4 separate regions of the Homo sapiens genome follow, and regions 2, 3 and 4 are each linked to region 1. The links come from fine-mapping of genetic effects on plasma protein levels. A gene starts in region 1. Each other region holds a variant in brackets. All regions are shown on one strand. Distances are between the middles of the regions. Region 1 holds the start of PTPRS (protein tyrosine phosphatase receptor type S). Region 2 overlaps PTPRS (protein tyrosine phosphatase receptor type S). Region 3 overlaps PTPRS (protein tyrosine phosphatase receptor type S). Region 4 overlaps PTPRS (protein tyrosine phosphatase receptor type S).

Region 1 (8,141 bases):
AAGAAAAAAATGGGTGCACAGTGATGGCTCCAGGTCTCCCCACCCAGATGCTACCACGAAATCCCTGGCATCCACGAAGCTTCCCCCTGTTCCATGGTGGAAATTGGGGGAAAATGGACTTGTGTCTCCAAGCAGGGTCCATGGACACTGGACGATGCCTGAAATCCCCTGGGAGGCAGGGAAAAAAGGCGCACTGAACGCTCAACCGGGGTATAAGGAGTGATTTTTTTTTCTCTGCTGGCAGCAGGCAGGAACCTGGGGTTTGAATGTCCCCTTCTCTGTCGCCACCTCACGCAGACTTCAGAGGCTCTCAAGGTTTCCTGGAGAGGGGGAAATCGTCCCCGGAGCTGACCTGCCAACCAGTAGCACCCTCCAGCGCCTCAGCCGGGCCACGCCAAAATGACCTGTCACCCATCTCCCGCGGGGAGTGGGGAGCGGGCCAGTCCACCGCCTCTTGGGACGGCATCTCTGGACGGCCACTGACAGTACCAGTCTCTGTCACCCCCTGGGGGGTTAGGGGCAATGTCATCGGCCAGGGTGGCAGAAATAGAAAAGTGCGTGAGCTCACCAGGCAGCCTGGGTCTCCTGCGACGTTTTGTTTGCCTGAGCCCAATTAGAACAACTCTCAGGATGATGGAGTATGGCGGGCGGTGGCCCCCAGGGGGCTGGGAGGCCTAGCCCCCATGCAGAAGTGCACCGTCATGATGAGGGTGTCCCCCGGGCCTGGGGAACAGGGCAGGACCCTGCTTCCCGGAGGGAAATAATGAAGACTCCGCCAGCCTGCCAGCCAGAAAGAGATGCCCCACGGAAGGCTTTGTGGAGGGCAGCGGGGGGGTAGGGGAGGGATGCCCAGGTGGGGACTCAGTCAGGCCCAAGCTGGGGGGCTGTGGGATTTGAGGGCGGGAAGCAGCCGCCCCCAGCCCCAGCTGCCTGCCTTCCACCGCCAAAATATCAGCTGGCAAAGAAAGAAGAGCAGAGGGACAGAAGGCAGGCGCGATTGGCAGGGGGAGGGGGGCACAAAGGAAGGGACCCTGGGAGGGGGAGGGGACTTATGCAAATGGCAGATTCGACCAAGTCCCTGGGCCATTAATAAACGCTCCAGCAGCTGCCGCTGGTATCGCAGGAGCAGAGGAGCGGGATGGCTTCCTTCTCCCGGGCGAAAGGCGGCAGAAAGAGGGAAGAAGGGCGCCCCAGACAAAGAGGCGCCGTCACCCTCTGCACCCCAAGGACAGCAGCGATAGGGGGCCACCCAGAGGAGGCCAGAATCCCAGCAGCCAAAGTCCGGGTGGTGGCGGACGGGAGCCCGGAGCGTGTGGGTCCCTGTCCTTGGGACCCTAGGGGTCTCTTCCTGCCTCCTCCGGCTTCTAGGTATCATCCCTGCTGCTCAGCCGGGACTCCGACACCTCGGACACCCGCTTCACTAGCCGCGGCTGCCGGGATGTGTTTTTAGGGTCTCGGCCAGAGGCAGGAGGACCCCATGCTCAGAAGGGGGCTCCCCTAGATTGTGACGGGGGGGGACAGGGGAATCCCAGCTGAGCCCAGAAGGGGGAGGCAAGGCACCCCCAATGAGGCTCTGGGAGGTTTGTTAATTTGGGGGAATGAGGTCCCAGGAGGTGGCTGGATTTGAGGAAGGGTTGCAGAGGAAGGGGCGTTCTTGGAAGCTGCATATTTAGGGAGACGAGAAGACGATTTGAGACTGGGGAAAGAGGGTCAACCGAAGAAGGAGGTCCCAGATTTGGGGCGGGGGGTGTGGCTGAAAAAAAGATTCCCAGTTTGTGGGAAAGGTTCCCTGATTTGAGGATTCTGGAGAGAAAGCGGCCGAAGGGGAGTTCCCCAATTTGGGAAGGGGGGGAATTGGTGGGAAATGTCCAGGATTTGTAGGGGGAGGTCCGAAGGGGAGGATCTTAATTTTAGGAGAGATTCCCATAAAGAGAGGTGAACTTGGCCGCAACCTGGCCGAACCCTCGCACCCACGGCGCGGGCACTCTAACCTGGGGGGCTCCCCTCAGGGCACGCCCCGCGCCCCCTTTAACCCAGTGCCGACGGCCCCGCCCCCGGTATGACGTCACCTCCCCTCCCCCCGCAGCCCCCGGGGGCTCCCGGGGCGTGCGGAACCCGCGGGGCTGGCGGTTCCAGGGGCGGCTTCCCCACTCTCGGGATCCCCACGGGGCCCCCAGCGCGGAGGGGAGACTGGGGTGCTGGGCGTGCGCGTCTGCCTGCCAGAGCCCCTGGGGCTGGGGGCTGAGGCTCGCCCCTGGGTGGGGAGGCTGGAAGGGGGCGCCGAGGCCGCAGAAGGGTGGGGCAATGCCCGAGTGCCGGAGGGGCGACCTCCCATAAGGCAACGACAGGGCCCGGAGTGTTCCAGGGGAGACGGCGTAGACTAGGGGGTCTCCAGGGGAGGGAGACCCGGAGAGGGAAGGCGGCGGGCGCAGCAGCCCTGGAGCCACCCCGCCTGGAGCCACCCGTCCCGGCTCCTCTCCGCTCCGGGGCGCCCGCATGCCCCCCATCCCCCGGCACAGCGCCCCCTGCCTCCAGGACCCGCCCGGGGACCCGGGCCGGGCGCCGCCGGGGCCGGCACCGGCTCCGCACACACGCGCGCCCCCCTCCGCGCCTCTGCCCCGCCCGCAGCCCGGGGTGGTGCAGCCGGCGGCGCTGGGCAGCTTCCAATGCCGCGCTCTGGGCGCTTCCAGCCCAGCCCCCTCCCACGCCGCGGACGAAGCCCCCCCAGCACCCCCTGCCGAGCGCCCCCAGCGCGGCCCCGGCCCTGTCCCTCGGGGCATTGTCCGGGCGCAGCTACCGGGGCGCAGCGGCTGGGCGTGCAACTGGCTGCAGCCGAGCATCCTCCGAGCACAATGGCCGTGCAGGCTTCCCCGGCACAAAGCCGGCGCGCTGCCCACTCGGCTGCCTCCGAGACCCCCCTTGGAGCGCCTGCATTTTTTTTTCCTCTAATCCATGATTTTATTTTTTTTTTTGGCTTTACCTGGAGGCTGGCTGGGCTGGGCTCCCCCGGCTCTGCCCCGCTTCACATCGTGGCTGTTGCATGGGATCCGAGCGGAGCCCGAGCGCCAGCGGCTCGCGGCGTGCGCGCGCCGGCCGGGCTGCCGGGCGGGCGGCGCGAGGACACTCACTGCGGCTCGCGCTCCCCTAGCTCCCGCTCGCGCGCCCCCCCAGCCGGTGACGTCATCCCTTCCGCCAGCGCCGCCGCCGCCGCCGCCGGGTCGGGGGCAGGGCCGGCCCGTGCGCGTCACTGCGCAGCCGCGCGGCCGCCACGCCCCCCGGCCAATGGGACGGCGCAGCGCGGTCACGTGGCTCCGGGGTGTTTAAAGGGCCGCGGGAGCACGTGGGGCGCGGGGCTTCGCGGGACACGTGGGCGGCTGGGGTGGTGGTGGTGGTGGCGGCTGCGGCGGCGGCGGGAAGGGCCCCTGGGGCTACTGTCCGTGCGGGAGCCCCAGCGTCCTGGGTGCAAAGGGCATGGCACTTTCTGTGCGCTGCCCTAAACTGTGCCACGGCTCCCCAGTACCCTTGGAATAAAATCCCGCCTCCTCTCTGCAGCTCGCCGTTTCACATTAGCGCCCACTACCCTGTCCCCTCCCCCCCACCATGTCAATGATCCAGAAAAACCAGCTGCTCCTTCTTTGCTTTTTCAGAGATGGGGTCTGCCACCTGGGCCTCAGTACAGTGGTATGATCATAGCTCACTGCAGCTTCAAACTCCTGGGCTCAGGTGATCCTCCCGCCTCAGCCTCCTGAGTAGTTGGGCTCGGGTGATCCTCCCGCCTCAGCCAGCTTCTTACAGTTCCTCTAACTTGAGCATCCAAGAACTTCCCCTTCTCATCTTTCCAATTTCTGCTCAAATAAGCAGCGCCTGGGAGAAGCCCTCCCTGACAACAGCTACCAGCCACGCCCCACTCCACTCTATCCCATTATCCCGGTTTGTTGTTGTTGTTGTTGTTTGTTTGGTTTTGAGTCGGAGTCTCACTCTGTCGCCCAGGCTGGAATGCAGTGGCGTGATCGCGGCTCACTGTAACCTCCGCCTCCTGGATTCAAGCTATTCTCCTGTCTCAGCCTCCGGAGTAGCTGGAATTACAGGCGTGCTGTCACCACGCCTGGCTAATTTTTGTATTTTTGTTAGAGACAGTGTTTCACCATGTTGGCCAGGCTGGTCTTGAACTCCTGACCTCAGTGATCCGTCCACCTCGGCCTCCCAAAGTGCTGGGATTACAGGCGTGAGCCACCGCGCCTGGTCCCATTATCCCGTTTTTATTCTAGTTACACTACAGTGTGGCTCCAGAGATCCCTATTGTAGGTTGAACACATGAATGAATGGATGATGGAGCACTTCTTATAGAGTAAGCACTTTACACAGGTCTCACCTAATTACCATCCCCTGCTTCCCTGGAGTCAGGACGAGCCACAGTTGGAACCCAGCTAAAACACTGATTTGCTGTGTGAGGCCCGGAGCCTCACTTTCCCCATCTGTAGAATGGATTTGCCTCTGGATCTCAGCTCTCATCTGTAAAATGGGGCAAGGTAGCCCCTGCTCCTAAGGAGGGTGTGATGATGAATTGCTATAATGTGGCAGCCTGGCTGCCATTGGTGCCTGAAGATGGAATAATAAGAGAAAAGAGGCCGGGCCCGGTGACTCATGCCTGTAATCCCAGCACTTTGGGAAGCCAAGGTGGGCAGATCACTTGTCAGGAGTTCGAGACCAGGCTGGCCGACATGGCGAAACCCCATCTCTACTAAAAATACAAAAATTAGCCGAGCGTGGTGGCAGGTGCCTGTAGTCTCAGCTAGTTGGGAGGCTGAGGCAGGAGAAACTCTTGAACCCGGGAGGCGGAGGTTGCAGTGAACCAATATCACACCACTGCACACTCTAGCCTGGGCGACAGAGTGAGACTCTCAAAAATAAGGAAAAAAAACAGAGCGGAAGTAAATAAAAGGGGGATATTGACAAAGGTAAGGGGGTTGGAGGGCTCACAGCCACCAAGCAAGATTGCACATCAGTCCTTGTGTTTTGATCATGTCGAAAGCATTTATTTCCTCAAGGCACATATTTGGAGAAGGCCTGGTGCCCAACAGAGGAACTCAACTTTAGAATTGGTTTTTTTTTTCCTCCAAAATTGTTGATTCATTCATTCCAGGCCACAGATGCAGATAAACAAAAAGCATTAACCCGGGGAACAAAACGATAAGGCGGAAGTCATAAACAGGAGAAAAGAGAGGAGATAATGAATAATTTAACAAGGAACCTAATTTAAGCTTGGAGTTTCCCAGCGGCCAGTGCAGCAGCCACGTTTGCAGAGCCTACTTTGTTTTTCTTCCTGGTGGGGTGACCCTGATCTGACCGTTTACAATCTGGCCTCAGTTTTCTCATCCAAGCAATGGGAACACGATCCCATCTTGAAGGATCAAATGGGGTGGTCTGTGCACAAATGCTTAGCGTGGTTTCTCACGCACAGTGGGTGCTGAAGCCTTGGAGAATTGGTGGAGACACAGTAAAATGAGATGGCTGATCGTGGAGGGGCTGATCATGGCACGAACCCCAGCCCAGTGACCTGTTTGGGAGGTGACCTCAAACAAGTGGCCGCAACACTGTAAGCCTAGCTGTCCCCATCTAGAAAAGGGGGACAACCACTAGTACCTCTGAGGGATTTTGTGAGCAGTCAAAGAAAACAGATTAAATACATCAAAAACAGAATTAAAATACATTGTAGCAGCTGGGCGCGGTGGCTCATGCCAGTAATCCCAGCACTTTGAGAGGCCAGGGCGGGTGGATCACCTGAGGTCAGGAGTTCGAGACCAGCCTGGCCAACATGGCAAAACCCTGTCTCTGCTAAAAATACAAAAATTAGCCAGGTGTGATGGTGCATGCCTGTAGTCCCAGCTACTCATGAGGCTGAGGCAGGAGAATTGCTTGAACCTGGGAGGCAGAGGTTGCAGTGAGCTGAGATCACACCACTGCACTCCAGCTGGGCAACAGAGTGAGACTCCCTCTCAAACAAAAAATACGTTGGCCAGGTGCGGTGGCTCACGCCTGTAATCCCAGCACTTTGGGAAGCCAAGGCAGGTGGATTGCCTGAGCTCAGGAGTTTGAGACCAGCCTGGCTAACATGGTGAAACCCCATCTCTACTAAAAATACAGAAATTAGCTGGGCGTGGTGGCGCGTGCCTGTAGTCCCAGTTACTCAGAAGGCAGGAGAATCGCTTCTACCCGGGAGGCAGATGTTGTAAGTGAGCTGAGCGCCACTGCACTCCAGCCTGGCAACAGAGTGAGACTTTGTCTCAAAAAAAAAAAAAAATACATTCCAGCATGTGCTTGGGAAACCCATCTGTTCAGGCCATGCATCCGGCCCCGCTCCCAGGTTGTTTGAAGTGCTGTGGACAACAGAAGTAAACAAAACAGTCTTTAAAATCCCTGGAGTTGGCCAGGCACTTTGGCCCAGCACTTTAGGAGGCTGAGGCGGGAGGATGGCTTGAGCCCAGGTATTTGGGACTAGCCTGGGCAACATAGGGAGACCCCGTCTTTACAAAAAGTTTTAGAAGTTAGCTGGGCATGGTGGTACACATCTGTGATCCCAGCTACCTGGGAGGTTGAGGTAGGAGGATCGCTTGGATGTGAGAGTTTGAGGCTGCAGTGAACTCTAAGCACGCCACTGCACTCCAGCCTGGGCAACAGAGCAAAAATTCCTGGAGTCAACAGTGCTGGGAGGAGATAGGAAATATCTTATTTAGAGTAAAAGCTTAAGCTCTTCCCACAGCTCACCAAGCTCTGCATAACCTACCCCCTTCCCCGCCCTCTGTCACCCTCGCTCACTCTGCTCCCGCCACTCGGGCCTCCTTGCTGTGCCTCCAACACACCAGGTAAGGTCCTGCCACAGAGCCTTTGCACTGTCTGTTCCCTCTGACCAGGATGCTGTTCCTCCTGCTTTTCTCAAGGCCAATTGTTCCTCCTTGCTCTTCGAGTCTCTGGGAGACCCTCCCAGACCATCTCACTGAGGTGACCACATGATCATCTTTACTTCAGTATCAGATTATTTATCATGATTTGGAATGATTTTATATTTTGGCCGGTTTGTGTGTTTCCTGCGTGTCTCCCTACTCTAGCTGTGCCTCAGTTTGCCTGTCTGTAAATGGGGATAATAATAATCGTGGTCCCTGCCGGGCGTGGTGGCTCACGCCTATAATCCCAGCACTTTGGGAGGCCGAGGCGGGCGGATCAGGAGGTCAGGAGATCGAGACCATCCTAGCTAACATGGTGAAACCCCATCTCTACTAAAAATACAAAAAATTAGCGGGCGAGGTGGCAGGTGCCTGTAGTCCCAGCTACTCGGGAGGCTGAGGCAGGAGAATGGCGTGAACCCGGGAGGTGGAGCTTGCAGTGAACTGAGATCACACCACTGCACTCCTGCCTGGGCGACAGAGCAAGAGTCCGTCTCAAAAAAATAAAAAATAAAAAATAAATAATATTGGTCCCTTAGGGCTGTCTGGAGGGTGAAATGAATCACACTATGTCAACCACCTGCCACCAGGTGCAGACTCACAAAAGGATTTCTGGTAAGTGTGGTCACTGTAGGCTGGGCGCGGTGGCCCACGTCTGTCATCCTAGCACTTTGGGAGGCCGAGGTGGGCAGATCACCTGAGGCCAGGACTTCGAGACCAGCCTGGCCAACATGGCGAAACCCTGTGTCTACTAAAAATACAAAAAAATTAGCCAGGCGTGGTGGCGGGTGCCTATAATCCCAGCTACTTGGGAGGCTGGGGCAGAAGAATCGCTTGAAACTGGTGGGCAGAGGTTGCAGTAAGCCGAGATCGCGCCATTGCACTCCAGCCTGGGCAATAAGAAACAAAGTCCGTCTAAAGAAAAAAAAAAAAATGCGGTCACTGTAAATGAGAAAACTATGGTTGCCTAGCCAGAAACAAAAGATGATCCTACAAGTCGATACAACAAGAACAGAAAATTATAAAATTCTTTTTTTTTTTTTTCCAAGACAGGGCCTCACTCTGTTACCCAGGCTGGAGTGCAATGGCACAATCACAGCTCACTGCAGTCTCAACCTCTTGGGGCTCAAGTGATCCTCCCAGCTCAGCTACCCAGGTAGCTGGGACGAAAGGCACAGACCACTACACCTGGCTAATTTT
Region 2 (8,141 bases), 44 kb before region 1:
TGTAGAAGCCCAGCGGGACCTGGGGGTCTGGGGACGGGACAGGGGCAGAGGCCGGGATGGAGACCCAAGGGCTCCCGCGTCTGCTCCCATCCCTGGAAAAAACGCCTCTCTTCCCAGCATTCGCGCTGAGGACGAAGCCCGAACGCCAACGCCAACGGGATGTCCTGGGCGCTCAGCTGCCATCAGCTGTGCTTCCTCAGGCCACCGGCCACGGCTCTAGGAGGCAGACCCCACCATCACCCCCATTCTGCAAAGAACGGAGCCGAGAAAGAGAGAGAAACGGCTGCCCACGGCCGGGAAGAGCAGGAATTGGAACCAGGGTTTGGGTCCAGAGGAGGAGCTCTCACCACAGCGCTGCTGGAGGCCTGGGGCCCCCGGAACTGAGGATATATCATGAATAATTTCAAGCCCCTTGGGTTTATCTAGGTACAGGGCCATCCTGAAGACAGACGCCCCACTCTCTAGAAGCCATTACTCAGTGGGGCAAAGGACGTGGGCTTTGATGGGAGACACACAGGCGGCTGTGAGAGCCCAGCAGAAACAATTCCGCTCCCACGGCTCCCGTCCATGCCCTCCCACTGCTACCTCAGTGGCTGGCTCCCATCTCCTTCAAACATCGAATAAATGCCTCCCTCACTGGGGGATACCACACTGCCCCCTTCCCTTACCATGCCTCAGTTTCCCTCCTCTGCAAAATGGAGCATGGAATCGCCCCGCCCCATCTCCAACAATAGGTGGCCTAGTCCACAAAGCACCATGCACAGTAGGTGGTCTGTGAGTGTCTGCACACAGGCTCCCTGCCTGCCCCTTTGACACAGAGCACACAGGAGGTGCTAAACACAGGATGCCGTGACGTCCCCCGTCCCACGCAGCCCCATCCTCGACGAGGTACACAGTAGGTGCTTCATGGAGGAGGCTGCCTGGTGCCCCAGCATCACCAAAGGCACACAGGAGGTTCCCTGTGTCAATGTAGGCGTAGGAGCAACCAGCGTGACCTCCCCAACTTGGCTGGGCACACAGTGGGCCCTCAGGAGCAGAGTAGGCACCTTGCTTGTATCTGTGGCAAGGCACGGGGCTCATACAGACTCGAGTTTGAATCCAGGGATGCCCCGTGTGTCAAGAAAGCACCCGTACCTCTCGGGCCGACAGTTTCCCCATCTGCCACATAAGCCAAGCACTGAACAGGTGCTCAATGAATCCACACTGTCAGGAGGCTTGGGGCTGCATGACCTGCAGCATACAGGCCTGGCTCTGGGCTGCCCAGGACTCGGGACGGCAGACAAGGGCTTGCCAGCCGCTTCCCAGCCAGTCCTGCCCTCTCTGGGCCTCTTGTCCATGTCTCTGTGGAGGCAGACTCTTGCCCCTATTCCACAGTGGTGACTGCAGTTGGCAGGGGACACAGCCACCCCCGAGGGGCTGGGGGAGGTGGGCCAGGTGCCCTCCCCCTTGGCTGGGTGGCCCCATCAGCACAGAGCCCTACATGCGCCTAGTCCCCGGGTCTGCCTCTCCCACCAGACTGTGACCTCAGGAGGCAGAGCAGGATTTGTCTCGGTCACCCAGTGTCCCCAGCACCTAGCACAGGTCCACAGTACAAAGGAGGTTCTCAGCAAACATTTGCACAATCAGGCCCAGCCTCACCCAGGAGAGCCCCTCCGACCTTATTCTCCTCCAAAGGCCACACTGTGTGTGCCCTTGTCATAAAGCAGGCATCTTCACCTACCCTTTTTTCAAGACAGGGTCTCGCTCTGTTGCTCAGGCTGGAGTGCAGTGGCACCATCATGGCTCACTCTAGCCTCAACCTCCTGGGCTCAACCTCCTGGGCTCAAGTGATCCTCCCACCTCAGCCTCCTGAGTAGCTTGGACTACAGGCACATGCCACCACGTCTGGCTAATTTTTGGATTTTTTTGTAGACATGGGATCTCCCCATGTTGCCCCGACTGGTCTCGAACTCCTAGACTCAAGTGAACCTCCTGCCTCAGCCTCCCAAAGTGCTGGGATCACAGACATGAGCCCGTAATAAGGTTAAGCCCAGCCTACCCTTTTCTAAACAAACATTTCCAAGCCCCGATGCCAGGCACAATCCTAGACACACAGTGACCAAGACTGACAAAGATCCCTGCCCTCAGGGTGTGGATGCTCTAAAGAGGGTGACACATGAGAAACAAAAGAAATCAAATCCACTGTGGGTCAGATGGTGGTAAGGGCCCTGAGGATGATTGGGTTCAGGGTTGTAGGATGAGGAGGGAGGATCGCCTGAGGCCAGGAGTTTGAGACCAGCCTGGGCAATATAGCCCATCATCTCTACAAAAACTTTTAAAAATTAGCTGGGCCTGGTGGCGCATGACTGTGGTTCCAGCTACTTGGGAGGCTGAGGGCGGAAGCATCGCTTGAGGCCAGGAAGTTGAGGCTGCAGTGAGCTAGGATGGTGCCACTGCAGTCCAGCCTGGGCGACAGAGCGAGACTCTATCTCTAAAAAAATGTAAAATAAAATAAACACAGGATAGGAGAGAGGGGAGGTGACATGCGAACAAAGACCAGGAGAAGGTGAGAGAAAGTGAAAGAGGATTCCAGGCAGAGAGCTCAGTCCATGCAAAGGCCCCGGGGCAGCACTGCACCTGGCGTGTTGGAGGAATGGCGAGGAGGCCAGTGTTGCTGGAGCAGAGTGAGGAAGGGGAGACAAAGAGGAGGGGAGGGGAGGGAGGGGAGGGAAGGAATGGGGACAAGATGCGCACGGCCTCAGAGGCCTCCAGGAGGAATTGGGCTTTGACCCTGAGGAAGGTGGGAGCCATGGAGGGCTGTGGGTAGAGGAAGGCCCTGACTCAGGTACTCACAGACATGCTCAGCTGCTGTGGGGAGGGCAGACTGTGGGGGATGACTAGGCTGGGGCTGGACTGGGTAGAGGATGAGGGAGAAAGGCACATTCTAGGCAGACCCAATAGAATTTTCTAAACGGCTCATTTGGGGATGTACAGAAAAGAGGGGACTCAAGGATGACTTCTGGGTTTTTGGCCTGAGCACCCTAAAGGTTAAGGGTGGCCACCTCCAGGAAGCCCTCCCTGATTGCCCCGCCTACTCCGTGCCCTTGGGGGCTGACCCCTGGACCCCTCCAAAAACGTTCCATTGATATGTCCTCTGTATACACCCAGGAGGCGGCTGCCCTTGGGGAGGAACACGGGGCTGGATCACGTCAGCTCCCACAGCTGGGACGTTGGGGGGTAATTTTTTTCAAAATAACTTTTCTTCTAATTATAAAATAGGCGCGTGCAGCAGAAAATTAGGTAAAATCAGCATAAAGAAGAAAATAAAAGTTACCCACAATCCATCCCTCGCCTAGAGAGAAACTGTTTCATGCGGCCGTTCTCATTCATTCTTTCCCTGTACATGTGCTGAGCACCTACTGTGTGCTGTGCTGAGGACACAGT[G/A]GTAAGCATGATGGAACCAGCACTCCTGCCCCTGTTGGGGGGCACAGACTAGTTGCAGGGGGGATGGACACCCACAGAAAAACAAACACTGTCAATAACATAAGGCCGGGCAGTGCTAAGAGATGCCAAAAATAATTAAATAAACCACACTGCAAGGCTGCAAAAACTGGGGGGTCCCTGGGGGAGCCTCTTAGAAGTGGTGATAATTGCATTTACACCTGGAGGAAGAGAGCAAATCAGACATACAAACACCTATGACAACAGAGTTGCAGGCAGGAGGAACAGCAAATACGATGGCCCTGAGGCTAACCATTTCCTTCCAGTCTTTCTTTTCTTTTCTTTTTTTTTTTTTTTTTTTGAGACAGAGTCTCGTTCCATCGCCCAGGCTGGAGTGCAGTGGCACGATCTCGGCTCACTGCAACCTCTGCCTCCCGGGTTCACACAATTCTCCTGCCTCAGCCTCCTGAGTAGCTGGGATTACAGGCGCACACCACCACGCCCGGCTAATTTTTTGGGTATTTTTAGTAGAGACAGGGTTTCACTATGTTGGCCAGACTGGTCTCAAACTCCTGACCTCATGATCCGCCCGCCTCGGCCTCCCAAAGTGTTGGGATTACAGGCGTGAGCCACAGCGCCCGGCCTCCTTCCAGTCTTTCTTCTATGCATACGAATGGGTGCTTTTCTTTCGTTCGATGGGGATCACCATTAGCAGACCATGTTCCAGTGTCCGGGTCACAGAATTTAATCAATTCCCACTTGTTTATCCCATTATGTCCCTTATAAACAACACTGTGAGGGACATTCTTAGACACAGCTGTGTCCCTTCGTCTCCTGAAGAAACTTCCAAAGCAGGGGTGACTGCATTGGGATGTTCTCAAGCCTTTAAACCTTCCCTGATGGGGAACCCTCAGATAAAACCATACCCTTGACCGGGGCAGGACCCCCTCCCCCAGCCTGTCTGTCCCACCTCCTTCATATTTGGCACCAAAACCCCCAGACATTTCATTTAGGTACAAACTCTGTACTCTTGGCTGTGAGAGCCAGAGAGAAACTGGTTGGGCAGCTTCCTCTCAGCTTCCCTGCCCTGGTCTTGCCCATGCCCAAGGCTCCCGCCTCCTACCTAGCACAGCATTCATGACCCGGGGCATGGGCGGGTGCCAACCAGCCAGGAGCCCGCCTCACCCATGTTCACATCACAGCCCTGGCGCCGGGTCTACCCGCCAGCCGCACCGCAGCGGGCATGATGCCCACCACAGGCACGCCCCAGCTCCATGTCTGCCTTTTTCACCTGTCCGCCCCCGCAGGCCAGGCTACCTTCCCCTTCCTGGAAAATGTGTGACACCTTCAGGCATGGCTGGATCCAGCAAAGCCATTCCTCCCATGTCTTCCCCAACTCTGCTGATAGCAGCTCTGTCCTTCCAGGGGCTCAGGCTAGAACCTGGAAGCTGGCCCTCACTGCTTTTCCTCCCTCACCCCATATGGTGTTGGTCTGGAAATACTCTCACGTTTGTCTCCTAAATTTCTACTCACTTTGTCCATCTTTCTCCATATTCCCTTCCCAACCCATCCAGCCTGATCATTGCCTGCTCGGACCAGCACAGTCACCTCTGCCCTGGTCCCCAGCCTCCCACCCTCGCCCTCCAGTCTGTCCTCCCCACAGCACCCACTACATGGTGCCGGTGTGCACCTGAGTCAGGTCCCGTCCCTCCTCTGCCCACAGCCCTCCATGGCTCCCACCTCCCTCAGGGTCAAAGCCCAAGTCCTCCTGGTGGCCCACAAGGCCCTGCATGACCTGCTCCATCTCCTCCCTGCCCTCCATTCCTCCCTCTCTCCCCCTCACTCTGCTCCAGCTACATGGGCCTCCTCGCTGTTCCTCCAGCACCCCAAGTGCAGTCCTGCCTCAGGGCCTTTGCACAGGCTATGCCTCTGCCTGGAACACTGTTCCTCTACATTTTCTTGTCACTTTTCTTCTCACCCTTCCATTCTCCCTCAAGGATCACCTCCTCAGAAATGCCCTGGCTGACCACCTGGCTCAAGCAGCACCCATCACCCATTACCCATTATTTTACTGTCACCTGAAATTCTCTGTCTTTACTCACTGTCTGGGTCTGAGTTATCAAATACAAGAACCACTAGTGGCTGGGTGTGGTGGCTCACGCCTGTAATCCTAGCACTTTGGGAGGCCAAGATGGGTGGATCTTCTGAGGTCAGGAGTTTGAGACCAACCTGGCCAACACGGTGAAACCCCATCTCTACTAAAAATACAAAAATTAGCCGGGCATGGTGGTGCGCACCTGTAATCCCAGCTACTCGGGGCTGAGGCAGGAGAATCGCTTGAACCTGGGAGGCGGAGGTTGCAGTGAGCTGAGATCGCGCCATTGCACTCCAGCCTGGGCAACAAGAGTGAAACTCTGCTTCGAAATAAAATAAAATAAAGGAAAAGAAAAAGAAAAAGGACCACTAGCCACATGTGACTCATTAAACTTAAATGAAGAAAAATTAAATAGGCCGGGTGCCATGGCTCCCACCTGTAATCCCAGCATTTTGGGAGGCCAAAGTGGGTGGATTGCTTGATGCCAGGAGTTTGAGACCAGCCTGGACAACATGGCAAAACCCCATCTCTACTAAAAACACAAAAATTAGCTGAGTGTGGTGGTGCACACCTGTAGCCTTAGCTACATGGGAGGCTGAGGCATGAGAATTGCTAGAACCCAGGAGGTGGACACTGCAGTGACGTGAGATCATGCCACAGCACTACAGCCTGGGCAACGGGGCGAGACTCCATCTCAAAAAAAAAAAAAAGAAAAGAAAAAGAAAAATTAAATAAAATTTAAAATTCTGCTCCTCAAGTCACACCGGCCACATTTCCAGTGTGGCTCATGGTCAGAGTACTGAAACCCACATAGCACACTTCCATCACTGCAGAAAGTTCTGTGGCCAGCTCTCCCAGCAACAAAGGGGCCAGGTCAGTCTTGGTCACTGCCAGGGTCGAGTACACAGTATATGCTCAATAAATGCTTTCTAAATGAAGAAGTGGGGCGGGTGTGGTGGCTTACACCTGTAATCCCAACACTTTGGGAGGCCGAGGTGGACAGATGACTTGAGCCTGGGTTTTTGAGACCAGCCTGGGCAATATAGTGAGACCCCATCTCACCAAAAAATACCAAAATTAGCCGGGCATGGTGGTGCATGCCTGTAATCCCAGCTACTTGGGAGGCTGAGGCAGGATTGCTTGAGCCCAAGAGGCAGAGGTTGCAGTAAGCTGAAATTGTGCCACTGCACTCCAGCCTGGGTGATAGAACAAGACTCCGTCTCAAAAAAAAAAAAAAAAAAGAAAAGAAAAGAAAGAAAAAGCGGTAAAATATATATAACAAAAAAATTTCCATAAAAAATATAGACATGAAAGAGTGAAGACATCAATGGCTCAGAGGCCTTGCAGAGACTAGAGGTGCTGGCCAATAGCACAGAGGTCAGCAGGTGCCATCTGCAGCCACAGTACCCTGGCCACTCTCACTCCCTGGGCAGCCACGTTAGGGTATCCAAACTCTACATTTCCAACATAGTGACATGGAAAGCCAGAAAGCAAAAGCCACATTGCTGGGCTTTGAACCTGGATCTCCCTGGCTGGCCAGCAAAGCATCCTCTGGGAGCTCTTGCTCCAGCCCCAAGGGCAGAAACTTGGAAAAGGCTTCCAGGCCACAGCCGGAGTCAGCTCTGCAGCGCCAACATGCTGACTCAGCCAAAAGTGGAGGACGGGGGAGGGACAGAATGGCCGGTCCCCCCGCCAGGCCCCATTGCCAGCCTGGGCCCCTGCCAGGCCGTCTCCCACCTTGAGCCAGCGTCAAGTGTATTAAAGTTGTTGCTGTTTTTTTTTTTTTTTTGAGACAGAGTCTCGCTCTGTCACCCAGGCTGGAGTACAGTGGCACCATCTCGGCTCCCTGCACCCTCTGCCTCCCAGGTTCAATCGATTCTCCTGCCTCAGCCTCCCGATTAGCTGGGATTACAGGTGCCCACCACCATGCTTGGCTATTTTTTGTATTTTTAGTAGAGACAGGGTTTCACCATATTGGTCAGGCTGGTCTTGAACTCCTGACCTCAGGTGATCCACTCGCCTCAGCCTCCCAAAGTGCCAGGATTACATGCATGAGCCTCCACACCTGGCTGTAAATGCATTTAATGGATCTGGCCACATCCTCTCTGCAAGATGCCTGCTGGTCTCTCCTTCAAGCGCATCCTCCCCCTCTACACCCACCAGTCCCCAGGAAGGGTGATCACAGTCTCCCCCCAATCCTCCCCTCCTTGCTCATGACTCTGCCATGTCCCAATACCCCCCATTGATTGGATGATGGATGGAGTCTCACTCTGTCGCTCAGGCTGGAGTGTAGCGCGGCAATCTCAGCTCACTGCAACCTCCGCTTCCTGGGTTCAAGTGATTCTCCCACTTCAGCCTCCTGAGTAGCTGGGGTTACAGGTACATGCCACCACACCCAGCTAATTTCTGTATTTTTAGTAGAGACGGGGTTTCACCATGTTGGCAAGGCTGGTCTTGAACTCCTGACCTCAAATGATCCGCCTTGCCTTGGCCCTCCGAAGTGCTAGGATTACAGGTGTGAGCCACCACACTTGGCCCCCCGATTTAATCATTCATGTAGGCTGGGCACGGCCAGCCTTGGGAGGCCAAGGCAGGAGGATCGTTTGAGCCAGAACTTAAGATCAAC
Region 3 (8,141 bases), 69 kb before region 1:
CAGGCGCAGCGCAGGCAACGGAACCTGTGATCTCCTCCAAGCCTTTTCCATAGAGGGGGAAACGGAGGCACAGGCAGTCACACACTTGTCCCAGGTCATACAGCCAGCATGTAGCAAGGATTTGAACCCAGGCCTGGCTGAGCTCAGAAGAAGCTGAGCAGGACCGGCTGCAAAAGCCCTCCACTCAACCAGGTCTGAACCCATCGGGGCCCTGAAGGGGGCATGGCTGGATGCCGTCTGAGGCAGTTCAGGCCTCTTGTCCATCCTTCCTGGGCCAGGGACCTGGACGACCTTGAAAGTGGCTCTGATTGGCTACTGATGACATCATCGGAGATGAGGGCCAAAATGACTGGGCCTCACTCAATTGGTCTTGGTGCCCACAGCTGGGTCTGTCGGCATCCCCCTGTGTGTCTATGCATGCTCGTGTGCCTACGAGGGAACCCTGTATTTCATTCATGCGTGGGTACATGTGTGCCGCATGTATGTGCTCACGCTTGCCCGTGCCCACGTGTCCACACGTGAGCAATTCCCGTGTGTATGTGGCCCCGCAGGGGTCCCCATAAGCGTGTGTGGACAGCAGCCAGCCAGGGTGCAGGGGGAGGTCTCGGCCGCCTGACGCTACCGAGAACACCTAATTAAACAAAAACGTACATCGCGAACCACACTCTGCCCAGTTCCTCGGAGTTTAATTAAAACAACAGTGCAGGAGGCGTGTGTGGGGTCCACAATCAGATGGCAGAGGAGGAGGAAGGCAGGGAGTGGCCCTGGCAGTCCAGATGGTCCCCCACCAACTGCCAGGGACTGGCCGGAGGTGCCCGGAGCTCAGGGCTGGTGGCAAGGTGGGTGGGATCGGGTCAGGGTATCCAAGGCCCCGGGCCCCAGCAGGAAGAATGAGCTCCCAGCCCAAGCAGGCCCTTCCAGGCAGCCGGAGAGGAGAGAGAAAAAGGGTGTGGGCTCGGCACGGTGGCTGACGCCTATAATCCCAGCACTTTGGGAGGCTGAGGAGGTGGATCACCTGAGGTCAGGAGTTCAAGACCAGTCTGACCAACATGGCGAAACACTGTGTCTACTAAAAATACAAAAATTAGCTGGGCGTGCTAGTGGGCGCCTATAGTCCCAGCTACTCAGGAGGCTGAGCCAGGAGAATTGCCTGAACCCAGGAGGCGGAGGTTGCAGTGAGCCAAGATCACGCCATTGCACTCCAGCCTGGGTAACAAGAGCAAAACTCCATCTCAAAAAAAAAAAAAAAAAAAAAGAGTGTGGATGGGCGCAGGGGGCATTTTTTTCCCAGACTCCGGGGGACCGGGCAGTTGATGGCTTCACAGCTTGTCCTTTTAATACCCTGAGTGCTCAGAGTGCAGGCTGGCTTGGGGCAAGAGAAGGCAGGTTGTTCTGTCCCAGCCTGGGAAAGGTCAGGGCAAAATTATCTGCTAGGAAGAGCAGGGCGGGCCACGGTGGGCCTGACTCCGCCCCCGCTCCTTCCTCCATCCCCCAGCAGGATGGGATCCAGGACCCACGCAAATGAAATTGTGGGGTCTCTTGTTAGAAAAGTATTAAGACTTTCCAGACCACAATAGCGAGCTTTTATCTTTTCTTCCCCCTCCCCCCCACCCCCCTTTTAGAGACAGGGTCTTGCTCTGTCACCCAGACTGGGGTGCAGTAGCATGATCATAGCCCACTGTAGCCTTGAACTCCGAGGCTCAGGCGATCCTCCTGCCTCAGCCTCCTAAGTACTTGGGACTATAGGCAGGCCCCATTACACCAGGCTAAGTTTTACATTTTTCTTTTTGTAGAGACTTGGACAGTGAGGCATGGGGTCTCTATGTTGCCCAGACTAGTCTCAAACTCCTGGGCTCAAGTGATCCTCTTGACTTGGCCTCCCGAAGTGTTGGCATTACAGGTGTGAGCCACGGCATGTGGCCAGCAGCAGAGCTTTAAAAAGCACGGGGCCTTTCTTTTTTTTCTTTTGAGATGGAGTCTCCCTGTGTCACCCAGGCTGGAGTACAGTGGCGCAATCTCAGCTCACTGCAGCCTCCGCCTCCCGGGTTCAAGCAATCCTCCTACCTCAGCCTCCCAAGAATCCGGGAGCTAGGATGACAGGTGCACACCACCATGCCTGGCTAATTTTTGTATTTTTAGTAGATTTGGGGTTTCACCATGTTGGCCAGGCTGGTCTCAAACTCCTGACCTCAAGTTGTCCACTTGCCTCGGCCTCCCAAACTGCTGGGATTACAGGCCAAAGCACAGGGCCTGAGGGAGGGATCCTGGATGACTGTACAGGTCACTCGCCTGTGATGCCAGTCCCAGTTTCATGGGACCAGAGTCTGAAATCGAGTACTACTAGGGCCGCTGTGATAACCCCTCCCAGGGCTCCAAGCTGGTCACAGCTGGGCTGCCGTGGAGGACATTGGAATAGCCTCATCTTGGGAAGCCACATGCAGGGGTCACCTCCCAGCTAATGGCTGGCAGTGGCTCATATACATGACTGGGATGTCTCTGCAGGTGACAGGTGGAACCCACTCACCTGAGGGCTGCAGAAGGATTGGTAACAAGCATCTTACTAAACCAGAATCCTAACAGTGATGAACACAGTAACGGGGAAGTAGAATTGACCAAATATGGCATTGTGCTAATCTTGCTCCCTGTATCACTCACTCATCTGGTTCACGGAATTACCCCTTGTGGTGAGAACCATTATTACCCGATTTTTTTTTTTTTTTTTTCCCTGAGACGGAGTCTTGCCCTGGTCGCCCAGACTGGAGTGCGATGGCGTGATCTCGGCTCACTGCAACCTCCACCTCCCAGGTTCAAACGATCCTCTCCTGCCTCAGCCTCCCGAATAGCTGGGATTACAGGTGCCCACCATCACGTTCAGCTAATTTTTGTATTTTTAGTACAGACAGGGTTTCACCATGTTGGCCAGGCTGGTCTCTAAGTCCTGACCTCGCGATCTGCCCGCCTTGGCCTCCCAAAGTGCTGGGATTACCGGCGTGAGCTACCGCGCCCAGCCATTTCATTTTTATTCATTCATTCATTCATTCATTCATTTATTTTGAGACAGAGTTTCGCTCTTGTCGCCCAGGCTGGAGTGCAATGGTGTGATCTCAGCTCACTGCAACCTCCGCCTCTTGGGTTCAAGCAACTCTCCTGCCTCAGCCTCCTGAGCAGCTGGGATTACAGGTGCACGTCACCTCACCCACCTAATTTTTGTATTTTTAGTAGAGACGGGCTTTTACCATGTTGGCCAGGCTGGTCTTGAACTCCTTGACCTCAGGTGATTCACCCGCCTCGGCCTCCCAAAGTGCTGGGATTACAGATGTTTGAGTCCCTGTACTCAGCCCGACTTTAGAGATGAGAAAAT[T/C]GCAGCTCAGACAAGTTCATTAACCTGCCCTAGGTCACACAGCAACCAAGTGGCAGCCAGGACTTGAGCTCCACAGGCTGGGCCCAGTGCTAAGACCAAACTGCAGTGGAGAAGGCAGCACAGAGTGGTTGGGCAAGGGTTTGTAGGCGGCTGTTTGAAATGATGCTGAACAAAAATTTGTTCACAAAATTGCTTCCTCATTATAAAACAGCATCACTCAGACAGCCCCCTATAAACCCCTTGCGACTTGTTCAAGAAATGCATTTAGGCTGCATGCAGTGGCTTATGCCTGTAATCCCAGCACTTTGGGAGGCTGAGGCAGGCGGATCACTTGAGGTCAGGAGTTTGAGACCACCCTGGCCAACATGGTGAAACCCTGTCTCTACTAAAAATACAAAAATTAGCTGGGCGTGGTGGCATGTGCCTGTAATCCCAGCTACTTGGGAGGCTGAGGCAGGAGAATCGCTTGAACCTGGGAGGTGGAGGTTGCAGTGAGCTGAGATAATGCCACTGTACTCTGGCCAGCGCAACAAAGCAAGACTGTCTCAAAAAAAAAAAAAAAAAAAAAAAAAAAAAAAAAAAAAAAAAAGAATTGCACCTAAACAAGACCAGCAAGCAGCACTGCAGGCCCGTGTGAATGTCTGGGGAAGTGGGGCAGCAGTTTCTGCCTACCTAGCATCCGTTCATCCTTTATTTTTTGTAGAGATGGGGTCTCGCTATGTTGCCCAGTCTAGTCTCACGTGTGATCCTCCCACCTCAGCCTCCCAAAGTGCTGGGATTGCAGGTGTGAGCCACCATGCCCAACCCTGTTTATCTTTATTCCTTTGGGGGAACCACACTCACTCTTGGCTCCAGGTAGGAGTCTAGCCAATCAGAGTGTTTGTTCCTCCTGAGCCACAGTGATTAGTTCAGGGAAGGGAATGGGATCCAAGTTCATTGGCAGTGGGGGAAGTCTCACTAAGGATATCATCAATACAGAAGGAAACAAAGCCAAGAGACAGAGAGTGAGCTCTGAGAAAATTCAATGAGCCCCTGGATCCAGCTGAACCTGAAGCCAGCCACTCCATGGAATTTTAATTCTGCACATCAATTACCTTTCTCGCTTGAACCCATCTGAGTTGGATCAGCCTTTTGTCATCAGAAGCACATGATGAAGATTATAAATTAGGATGATTCTAGTCTCTCAATTCCTTTCTTTCTTGCAAAGGCACAATAAATCCCCACCAGTAGGCGCTGGGCCCTGAGACTGTTACTGGTTGGATAAGGGAGATCAAGGTCCTCCCAAAAAACACAAAGCAGGAGGGTTTGGGGTAACTTTCATGTATTCCTTTTGTGCTTGTCCCCAAAGCCCAGGGCCCAGTTTATCCTCCGCCCGCCCTGAGGAGCCCAATACCTCGGAGGACAGTAAGCTTGGCATGGACTGTGATCTCCCCAACCGAGTTCTGGGCCACACACTCGTACACGTTTTCATCCCGCGGTGTCCTCAGCGGCTGGATCCTCAGCACTGCCCCTGCACTCTCATCAAACTCAATCGTCTGCCATGGGCAGGGGAAAAAAGAACAGAGTGAGGCTGGGGTCCCAGGAAGGTTCCTGTCTAGGCTGGGCTAGGCTGGGCTGTAGGGGAATGGCAGTCAGCCCCATGATCCTGGGGGTGACTGGGAGAATTGCTGCAGGCTGAATGTGCACGTGTGTCGGTGTCCAGTATAAATGCGCCGCAGACAGGGACCAGATTTGGGTACATATAAGAACAGGGTGTTGTGTGCATGTGTGAGGGTGACAAATGTCTGCAAGCCCATGTGACAGGCATGCAAAGGCATGTGAAGACATGCGGAATGTGTCAATGTGCACGTGTGATCATGGGCGTGTATTGAGAGTTGTAAAGTTCCTTCTGTGTGCAGTGGTGCTGTGTACACTGCACTGTGAAGAAGACTCAGAGAGGGCAGGGCTTTGCTTGAGGCCACACAGCATGGAGCTGGTAGAGCAAGTAAGGCGGGCAGGGCCCTGGCTGGAGGCTGCGCAGCCATGCTTGCTTGGCCACAGATGATGCTCCACCTGGGGAACGTGTCCACGAAGTCCACTGTGGCTGAGGTGCTGTGGCCCTGCCTTGGGGGAGCATTGACCCCAGGCTGCCTCCCCCTACCCCAACTCACCTCAAAGCGCTGAGAGTTGACCTTCTTGCCCTTCTTGTTCCAGGTCACTCGTGGCTTGGGGTCACCCGTGGCCTGACACACGAAAGAGGCCACACCCCCCGACACGCCGATCTGGTCCTTGGGTTCTTTGATAAACCTGGGGGGCTCTGGGGATACAGTGGAAAGAAGGGGGGGCGCTGATGGGTCCAGGCATCTGGCTAGGATACCAAGGAGCCACGAAAACCTGCATTCCATGCCCTGCCCACGGAAGTGCCATGTGGCCAATGAAGAGAGGAGGAGGAAAGCAAGGATGACAACAAACACCCTCCCACCTCGCCCCCCACCACGGCACCCATGGGCACCCAGGTGCCCACATATCCCCACTTCCACCTGCAACAGCCACACCTGCTCACACACAGTGGATACAACCTCACCTGGGCACACCTGCTCAGACACAGTGGATACAACCTCACCTGGGCACACCTGCTCAGACACAGTGCCACTGGGAAAGATGGAAGGGGAAACCTGTGAGATGCTGGGGTCCCTAAATTCAGCACCTGAACCCCCCCTCCATGGTGACCAGCCAAACCCTGGAGGGCCCTGAAAGCACTTGCCAGAATAACTTGGTCTAATTTCCTGGTGAGACATGTGGGGAAACTGAGGCACCCAGCATGGGGGCGGGGGGTGACCATGGGACATGAGGTCAGAGCCAGTATTTGAACCCAGAGCTCCAGCTTCTTGGGAGGCATCCAGGAGGTGGCTGGACACGAGGGGTCAGTGCCCAGGAGAGTGCTCTGAGCTGGAGGCAGGAGCTCAGAAAGGGGAAGTAATATTTAATATTTAACCTCTCCAACAGCATGGAGAGGCAGTGCCATCCTGATCGTCATTTTCTTTTCTTTTTTTTTTTTTTCCAGACAGTGTCTCACTCTGTCGCCCAAGCTGGAGTACAGTGGTGTGATCTCGGCTCACTGCAACTTCTGCCTCTCAGGTTCAAGCGATTCTCCTGCCTCAGCCTCCCGAGTAGCTGGGACTACAGGTGCCCACCACCATGCCCGGCTAACTTTTTGTATTTTTAGTAGAGATGGGGCTTTACCATGTTAACCAGGATGGTCTCGGTCTCCTGACCTCATGATCTGCCTGCCTTCGCCTCCCAAAGTGCTGGGATTACAGGCATGAGCCGCTGCACCCAGCCTTCTTTTCTTTTTCTTTTCTTTTTTTTTTTCCTGAGAGATAGGGATTCACTCTGTCACCCAGGCTGGAGTGCAGTGGCACGGTCTTGGCTCACTGCAGCCTAGACCTCCCAGGCTCAAGCAATCCTCCCACCTTGGCCTCCCAAGTAGCTGGGACTACAGGTGAAGGCCATCACATCTGTAACCCCAGCACTTTGGGAGGCTGAGGCCGGAGGATCACCTGAGGTCAGCAGTTCGAGACCAGCCTGACCAACATGGTGAAACCCCGTCTCTACTAAGGAAACAAACATTAGCCAGACATAGTGGTGGGCACCTGTAATCCCAACTACTTGGCAGGCTGAGGCAGAAGAATTGCTTGAACCTGGGAGATGGAGGCTGCAGTGAGCCAAGATCATGGCACCACACTTCAACCTGGGCGACAGAGTGAGACTCCGTCTCAAAAAACAAAAACAAAAACAAAAACCAGCCTGGGGTCTCACTATGTTGCCCAGGCTGGTCTGGAACTCCTGGCCTCAAGTGATCCTCCCACCTTGGCCTCCCAAGTAGCTATGTTGTCCAGCCTGGTCTCAAACTCCTAGCCTCGAGCAATCCTCCCACTTCAGCCTCCCAAGCTGCTGGATTTATAGGCGTCAACCACCATACCCAGCTCTGCCATCCCCATTTTACATGTGAGGAAACTGAGACACAAACCAGGCAAGGGACTTGCTTTGGCTGGACATGCACAGCCAGGCGGTGGCTGAGCTGAACGTGCTCCTTTGAACCAGCCTGGCTTTCACATCCACATTCTTCACCCTCCATGACGATCTGATGTATTCATTCAGTCTCTGCAATAAAGCCTGGAGTAGGAGTGTTTTTGTTTTTGTTTTTGTTTTTTGAGATGAAGTGTTGCTCTGTCACCAGGCCAGAGTGCAGTGGTGCCATCTCGGCTCAATGCAACCTCCGCCTCCCAGGTTCAAGTGATTCTCCTACCTCTAACTCCTAAGTAGCTGGGATTACAGGCACGCACCACCACGCCTGGCTAATTTTTGTATTTTTAGTAGAGATGGGGTTTCACCATGTTGGCCAGGGTGGTCTTGAACTCCTGACCTCAAGTGATCCACCTACCTTGGCCTCCCAAAGTGCTGGGATTACAGGTGTGAGCCACTGCGCCTGGCCTGGAGTACGTGTTTTTTTTTTGTTTTTGTTTTTTTTGAGACAGAATCTCACTCTGTTGCCCAGGCTGGAGTGCAGTGGTGCGATCTCGGCTCACTTCAAGCTCCGCCTCCCAGGTTCACACCATTCTCCTTCCTCAGCCTCCCAAGGAGCTGGGACTACAGATGCCCGCCACCATGCCCAGCTAATTTTTTTGTATTTTTAGTAGAGATGGGGGTTTCACCGTGTTAGCCAGGATGGTCTCGATCTCCTGACCTCGTGATCCGCCCGCCTCAGTCTCCCAAAGTGCTGGGATTACAGGCGTGAGCC
Region 4 (6,498 bases), 52 kb before region 1:
GTCATAAAGGATCTCCCAGAAAGCTCCCTTGCCCTTTCTGCCACGTGAGGACACAGGGAGAAGATGCCTTCCACGAACCAGAAGATAGCCCTCACCAGACACCAAATCTGTGTTGCCTTGATCTTGGACTTCCCAGCCTCTAGAACTGTGAGGTACCAATTTCTGTCATTTATAAGCCACTTGGTCTGTGGTATTTGGCTACAGCAGCCCAAATGGACTAAGACAGCCTCCAACCACCAGCTAAACCCCAACCCCAGCATGAGTCCCCAACCCAGGCTGGGCCCCTGACTCAGACCAAGCCCCACACCAGGACTGAGGACCTGAGCCCCTGACTCAGACCAAGCCCCACACCAGGACTGAGGGGTGCTGAGCCCCAGTTTTCTCCAACTCACAGGCTGCTTCTCAGGAAGGAGGGGACTCCAGACTATGCTGCTGTCTGGCTCTAAAACCTGATCCCCCAGGTTATAAGACAAATCTCTTCCACACACCTGCCTGTCCCTGCCCTGCTCTAAGACCTCCCATGGCTCCCAGAGCCCCCAGGGGAAGCCACTCTTGCTGACTTCACTGTTTCCTCTCGCTTGGAGGTACAGCCAGGCCAGCCAAGCTCAGTCCCACCTCCAAGCCTTTGCTTCTGCTGTGCCCTCTGCCTGGAATGCTGTCCCCACCACATGACAGGTCTCAGCTTAGCTGTCACTTCCTCAGGAAACCCTTCTCTGCCCCTCAAAGGTCAATTCCCCCTACATTCTACATCCCGGAGCATCAGATATGACTAAGGTTATCCTCCGTGGTATTCACCCTGGTTCCCAAACTAAATGAAAAGATGTTAATCATTCAGCACGTTTCTCCCACAAGAACCTCAACTCCTCCAGGGCAGAAGGGTCCCTCGTCACATACCTTGAACCCTGGAATGGCCCCCTCCCCATCTCCCCAATCTCCACTCTGTCCAGAGCCAGGTCAGAGGGCCAGGGAGGGGAAGGGAGAGGCCCAAGGATAAGATCTTTGTTGCCTAGTCAGGCTGGCACCCATGCCAGCCCATGCCCTGGGCGGGTCCAGGCCGTGACCACAGGAACTGGTGGCGCATAATAACGGGGCAGCCCCTGTGATTCTGACTCCCAAAATACCCAGCTGCGGTCACCTCGCCCAGCCCTGGGGCGGTCCCAGGGGAAGGATGGGCGGGTAGTGGCCGGGTCACAGCCTAGGGTGACGAACGGGATTCGGGGGGCCTCAGTGTACATAGTTAGGCCACAGGCATACAGTCAGACCAGCCACAGAGAACGATGCCTGCTAAATCACGCCACAGACATACACAGATGCACACAGTCAAACCACCGATACACACCGACACACAGTCAGACTGCAAGCGGTTGCATATCTGCAAGAGACACAGAAACAAATGCATTCACACAGTCAGGCAGCAGAGACGGGCACACACACACACACACACACACACACACACACACACACACACACAATCAGGCAAATAAAACTTGCACATAGTCAGACCACAAACACAGACAGGCCCAAAATCAGACCACAGACATACACCAAGCCAGAAAAGATACACATAAGGGGTCATGGTGGGGCAGGCAGTACACATACACAGTTGGGTTACAGGGAACTGCAAACATGCAATTAGATCAGAGATACCTACAGGTGCACAAGCCGGTCAAAGTCACACGCAGACACAGGTGCCGGCACACTGTCAGACTATAGATAGGCCAGTCAGTCAGCAGACCACAGGTGCATGTGCCAGCCAGCCAAATAGAGATATGCAAAGTCAGATTCCCTTCCTACACACATATGTGCACACAGGCAGGCTACACAGACATGCACACACACAGTCAGACTCTAGGTACACCTTGCACACAACCAGTTGGGGACTGGGAAGATGAAGGAAATAAAGCCTAGAGCACAGTCCCTTACTCTGAGTCCCTGCCCTAGCCCTTTAAGAGCAAAAGTTGCCAACGAGGAAGGCGGTGGCCCCAGATGGAGAAAACAGCCTGTGGCCAGCTGGGGCTAGGGTGACCACAGCGGCTGGCCCTGCCCAGAAATGCACATCTGCTTGGCCACACTGAGGGGGCGAGGTCAGTCCCAGACCACTTTGAGCAGCTGGGCAGGCCTGCAGAGAGCCTCTGGGGAAACTGAGGCAGCATAGCAAACCTGAAGCTCAGAGGGCATGGGTAGGAGTCACTTGCACAGAGAGCCCAGGTGGGGCACATATATGGAGGGCCCCAGCCACAGCTGGCTCTCCCACATCCCACGAGGACCTCAGGGCAGCATCAGCCACCTTCTAAACCAGGCAGCCCTAATTACACCCTGGCTCCCACGGCAGAAGCCATGTTGGGCCCACACCTCCCTGATGTCTGCGCAGGATGGGGCTGAGTCAGGCACAGACAGGCAGGGCCTGGCCATGGACTCCCCCCAGATCCGCCACTCCAGCCTGTCAGGGGCAGGGACGAGGGGCTACAGTAACAGGAGCATTTGGGGCATTGGATGATGTATCAGGAATAGGGTGGTGGGAGGGGCCCAGGGAGTGGGGTTCAGACACTACCAAAGACAAAACATCCCGGGGTCCCTTAGGTGCCAATCCTCCCTAGGAGAACCTCCCATGATGGGGATAGGACCCTGCACACCCACAATCCTCCCACCGACTCCTGCTTCCACGAAAACCCCAGGCGTGAGGTCCTCTGCGAGGATTTGGGAGAGAAGATCCCTAGGTCCCATCAGCTCTGCCTTCAGAATCTGTCCCCAACCTGCCCACTTCTTACTCATTCTTCTGCCTCCACTTCTTCCAGCCCCATTGTCACCGACCTGGACAGATGTCGTCACCTCCATCGTGGTCTCCCAGCTCCCGCCCTTGTCCCTTGATCTGTTCCACTCACAGAAACCAGAAAGCATCTGCAAGCACCCGAGTCAGGGCTCGTCCTTCCTCTGCCCACAGCCCTCCATGGCTCCCACCTGCCTCGGGGTCAAAGCCCAAGTCCTTCCTGAGGCCCACCAGGTCCTGCACGACCTGCCCTGTCCCCTCCGTGCCCTCCCCTCCTCCCTTTCTCCCCCTCCTCCCTCTGCTCCAGCCGCATGGGC[C/G]TCCTTGCTATTTCTCCAACACCCCAAGTGCAGTCCAGTCCTGCCCCCGGGCCTTTGCGTGGGCCATTCCTGGATTTAATATTGGCTGAGGACCAAAAGGTGAATGGGAATTGGGGGCAAGGGTGTCTCTGCACTACAAACAGCATGAGGAAGAGCAAGGGGGCAGCACTGAGAGGTCCTAGGAGGGAGAGGGGGAGAGATGAGGACAGAGAGGTGCACATAGACTAGACCCACAGAGCAGCCAGGAGCCCTACGTGGCCCTGGGCAGGGAGGGAAATGGCCAGGTTGGTGCCAGGCCAACCCTCCACCATGTCCTCTTGCAAAAGGCAGCCTGGGCCACCAGCCTTGCCACTGCCAAGAAAGGGAAATTAAGTCAGGTGCAGTAATCTGCAAGCTCCCAGTAAATGACACGGCTGTTAGGAAAAGCATGGCAGCCCATGGTGGCCAGCGAGGCTGAGCCAGGGCTAGGGAGAAGGAGAGGGAGTGACCGCTGGACGCTGAACCCATGTGGGGCTCAGGGAGGGTCTCTGCCCGCCCCACCTGGCTCTCAGGGGCTGCACTGCCCACCACTAGCTCACGGCAGCTGGTCAGAGGCAGGCGCTTGACTTTTACAGATGAGGAAACTGAGGCTCACAGAAAAACAGGGACTCAGCCAAGGCCCCCAGCTGGGGTGGGACTTGGGTCTAGAGCCCACGTTTAATCTTGTGACTGTGTCTTTCTCTGGCCACTGCGAGATCTCTGGACAACTCTCTCTGGGACTGGTAGAGCCCGCTGGCCGCCTCTGGGGGCTCCCCCGCGGTGCTAATGGGGGGCGAGTGGGCACTCATTCCAACCAGGCGCCGGGGCATGGGTCACGCGATCTGGGAGCCGGCTTTGTGTGCCCACGCGGTCCAGGAAGCATAAAGGGGTGATTATGACCCAGGCCGGGCAGCAAACAGGCTGTGTCACCCGCACGAGGCGGGGGCTCCTCGGGCCAGAGGAGGCTCCCGGTGCCTCTCCCAGCCCAGGCTCCAGCTGTAGAGTCCATGCTGCCCTGTCCTGGGGCGGGAGTCTGGGGGCCTAGTCCTAACCCTCAGGGGCCATCCCATGGCCCCAGGGCAGGAGAAGCTGAGGCTGATTATGCCAGCAGTGGGACTCAGGGGAAAGACCCCTGACCCTGCACAATCTCTCCACCTTCACATCCACCCCCCACCCACAGCTCTCCCGTGCCACCGCCTGGAACGTCATTTCCAGGACTGGACCCTGGCCTCCAGCCTCCCTGGACACCTGGGTCACTCCCACATCCACTCAAGCAGGGACAGGCAGCGAGGGCCCCCCTGGGCAGCAAGCACAGGCTCTGTGGCCACTGGTGGGCTCAAGTCAGCTCTGGCCAAGCCACTGTCCCTCCCAGGGCGCCATTATCTCCCTATCAGGAAATGGGCTCAGGGAGGGGCTGGGTGGGGCTGGCCCTTCCCGGAACTGAAGTCCGGGGACCTGGCTTTAATTGACTATTGATTTGTATTGGGACGACGTGAAGGCTCAGGGCACTGTCCCCAGGGGTCCTGGTGGCCAGGAGTGGATGGGTGGGGCAGACAGGGAACCAGGCCCAGCCCTGGAGAGGGAAATCATTAAAGTCCACTGGGTGCCTCTGGGGTGCTGAGCCCCATTAAATGTTCTCTGTGTTTTCTGCTGTTTAACGGATTAGGAAACCGAGGCTCACCAAGGGTCCTGCATGGAGGAGGGGGCTGGGCTGGGTTAGGATTTGAGGCCAGAGCCCGGCTCTCAGTCGAGCCCAGAGTCCACATCCTCTGGGCGCCCAGGCTGCCAAAATTGCCCGTCAGTGTGTCCCCCATGCTGGCTTCATGGAACAACTTGAGACGCCAAGATCTGGGGGTACCCCTGCTTCTGCTCACACACCCACGGGGGCTCCCAGCTCCTGTGCTCGCTGCTCTGGGCCCTTCTTGATGTGACTGCATCCATCGTCTTCCCTACCCCCTCTTCCCGAAAGGTCCTGCAGTTCTCAGAATACACTGCCTCAGGTCTCTGAGCCTCTTCGCATGCAGGTCCCCCACCTGGCACACCCTTCCCCAGCTGGCCCATGGTCAGTTCATCCTGTAAGCTGCAGCCACGAGATGCCTCCACTCCAAGCTGAGCCCCGTTCCTCCTCTGCTCTAAAACCCTCCATGGCTCCCATCAACACGTATTAAAACTCAGACTGCTACCTCAGCCTCCAGAGCTGCCAGCCCGGCCTCTGCTGACCTCATCACGCCACAACCCCCCATGCCAGGCTTCCCTTGACACCTTGATCCCCCCCACTTGTGGCCCCTGGCTCCCACAGGGGTATTTACACACACTGTTCCTTCCACCCAGCATACCCTTTCACATCCTCATCAAATCTCAGCCCTCATACTTGTCCTCAGGGCTCAGCTGAGCTGTCACCTCTTCCAAGAAGCCCTCCTGGATGCCCCAGGGTGGATCAAGACCCATTCTGAGCTACCCCATCACAGCTGTGCTCCCACTGTGGGTCTGTCAACCCCCTGGATGGAAGCCCTTTTCCCACCCCAGGAACGTGGCAAAGCCCCTGCATGCACTGGATGCCTGCTGCATAACCAGCTCCACCTGGCACTTTATCCACAGCATCCCTGGCGTCACCTGGGTTTCAGAGGTAGAAACTGAGACCATAGACAGAGACCACCCCAGGCAATGGAGACCGAGACGGGGACAGCCTCGCATCCACCCTAGGGGGTCTGGCAGAGACTTAAAGGGTGGGGGTGAGGCTCTGGAAGGAACAGACAGCTGAGGCCAGCCTGGGTTCTGCAGGAAGCCCCTTGGGGAGGGTCACCAAACTCTGTCAGCTCAGTACTTGGGTCCTGGAACGGCTTAGAGCCCAGGGACGGGAATGGGTAAAAGAAAGGTACGAGCTGCCCTGACCGTCTCAGAAGACAACACCACAGGCCCCTCCCTGAGGCCAAGCCCCCCAGTTTCTTAAAGCCCCCCAACAAAGCACAGAGGCAACGTGGGGTCCACAGGCCCGAGAGGAGCGGAAACAAATGGATGGAGGTAAACTTCCTGCGATTTTCGGGGGTGGCTAAGAGCAGGGATTCCTGCCATGCACCCCCCACCGCTACCTGCCCCCTCTGCGGTCCTGTTGCCTCCTCCGCCTTCTGCGAAGTCCCCAGTCACAGCTCCCCCGGGCTGGCAGCGAAGGCTGCCCCGCGCCTGGCTCCGCCCCCGGGAGGTGGGGGAGGAGAGGGGGTGGGGGGAGGAGGTCGGGCTGGGGGCCAGGCGGGGGAGGGGACCCTGCGGAGCATAACGGTCTGGAGTTTTCCAAAGTGCAAGCGACGGGCCTGAATGGGGGGGCGCCAGGCAGCAGCAGGCCCAAGCTGGCCCTGGAGGGCGGCCGGCACGGTCAGGCCCGCGCTGGGCTGTGGGGAC

Evidence for each region. PIP is the posterior inclusion probability: the model's chance that the variant is causal. Protein levels are from antibody-based Olink assays in UK Biobank. Linkage for the fine-mapping came from a reference panel and not from the study's own genotypes, which makes the PIPs less certain.
Region 2: its variant is fine-mapped to the plasma level of the PTPRS protein (UK Biobank, PIP above 0.99).
Region 3: its variant is fine-mapped to the plasma level of the PTPRS protein (UK Biobank, PIP above 0.99).
Region 4: its variant is fine-mapped to the plasma level of the PTPRS protein (UK Biobank, PIP 0.99).

The regions. Positions count from the first base shown.
Region 1 is chr19:5,337,684-5,345,824 of GRCh38, forward strand. PTPRS (protein tyrosine phosphatase receptor type S) reads right to left here and starts at 3,129. Exons shown (of 38, transcript NM_002850.4): 1 at 2,981-3,129. LOC105372252 (a long non-coding RNA gene) reads left to right here. Exons shown (of 5, transcript XR_936279.3): 5 at 1-383. RefSeq lists an enhancer at 517-1,190 and a silencer at 3,057-3,336.
Region 2 is chr19:5,294,030-5,302,170 of GRCh38, forward strand. All of the region lies in intron 1 of PTPRS (protein tyrosine phosphatase receptor type S), which reads right to left. LOC105372253 (a long non-coding RNA gene) reads left to right here. Exons shown (of 2, transcript NR_187754.1): 2 at 118-654. Among named protein-coding and RNA genes, the nearest start is that of PTPRS, 43 kb to the right of the region's middle. RefSeq lists enhancers at 523-1,140, 1,141-1,757, 4,170-4,670, 7,191-7,691. The variant G/A (reference allele first, on the strand shown) is at 3,424.
Region 3 is chr19:5,268,688-5,276,828 of GRCh38, forward strand. It overlaps PTPRS (protein tyrosine phosphatase receptor type S), which reads right to left. Exons shown (of 38, transcript NM_002850.4): 3 at 5,512-5,657; 4 at 4,755-4,896. Among named protein-coding and RNA genes, the nearest start is that of PTPRS, 68 kb to the right of the region's middle. RefSeq lists an enhancer at 225-725. The variant T/C (reference allele first, on the strand shown) is at 3,362.
Region 4 is chr19:5,286,540-5,293,037 of GRCh38, forward strand. All of the region lies in intron 1 of PTPRS (protein tyrosine phosphatase receptor type S), which reads right to left. Among named protein-coding and RNA genes, the nearest start is that of PTPRS, 51 kb to the right of the region's middle. RefSeq lists a silencer at 6,455-6,498. The variant C/G (reference allele first, on the strand shown) is at 3,085.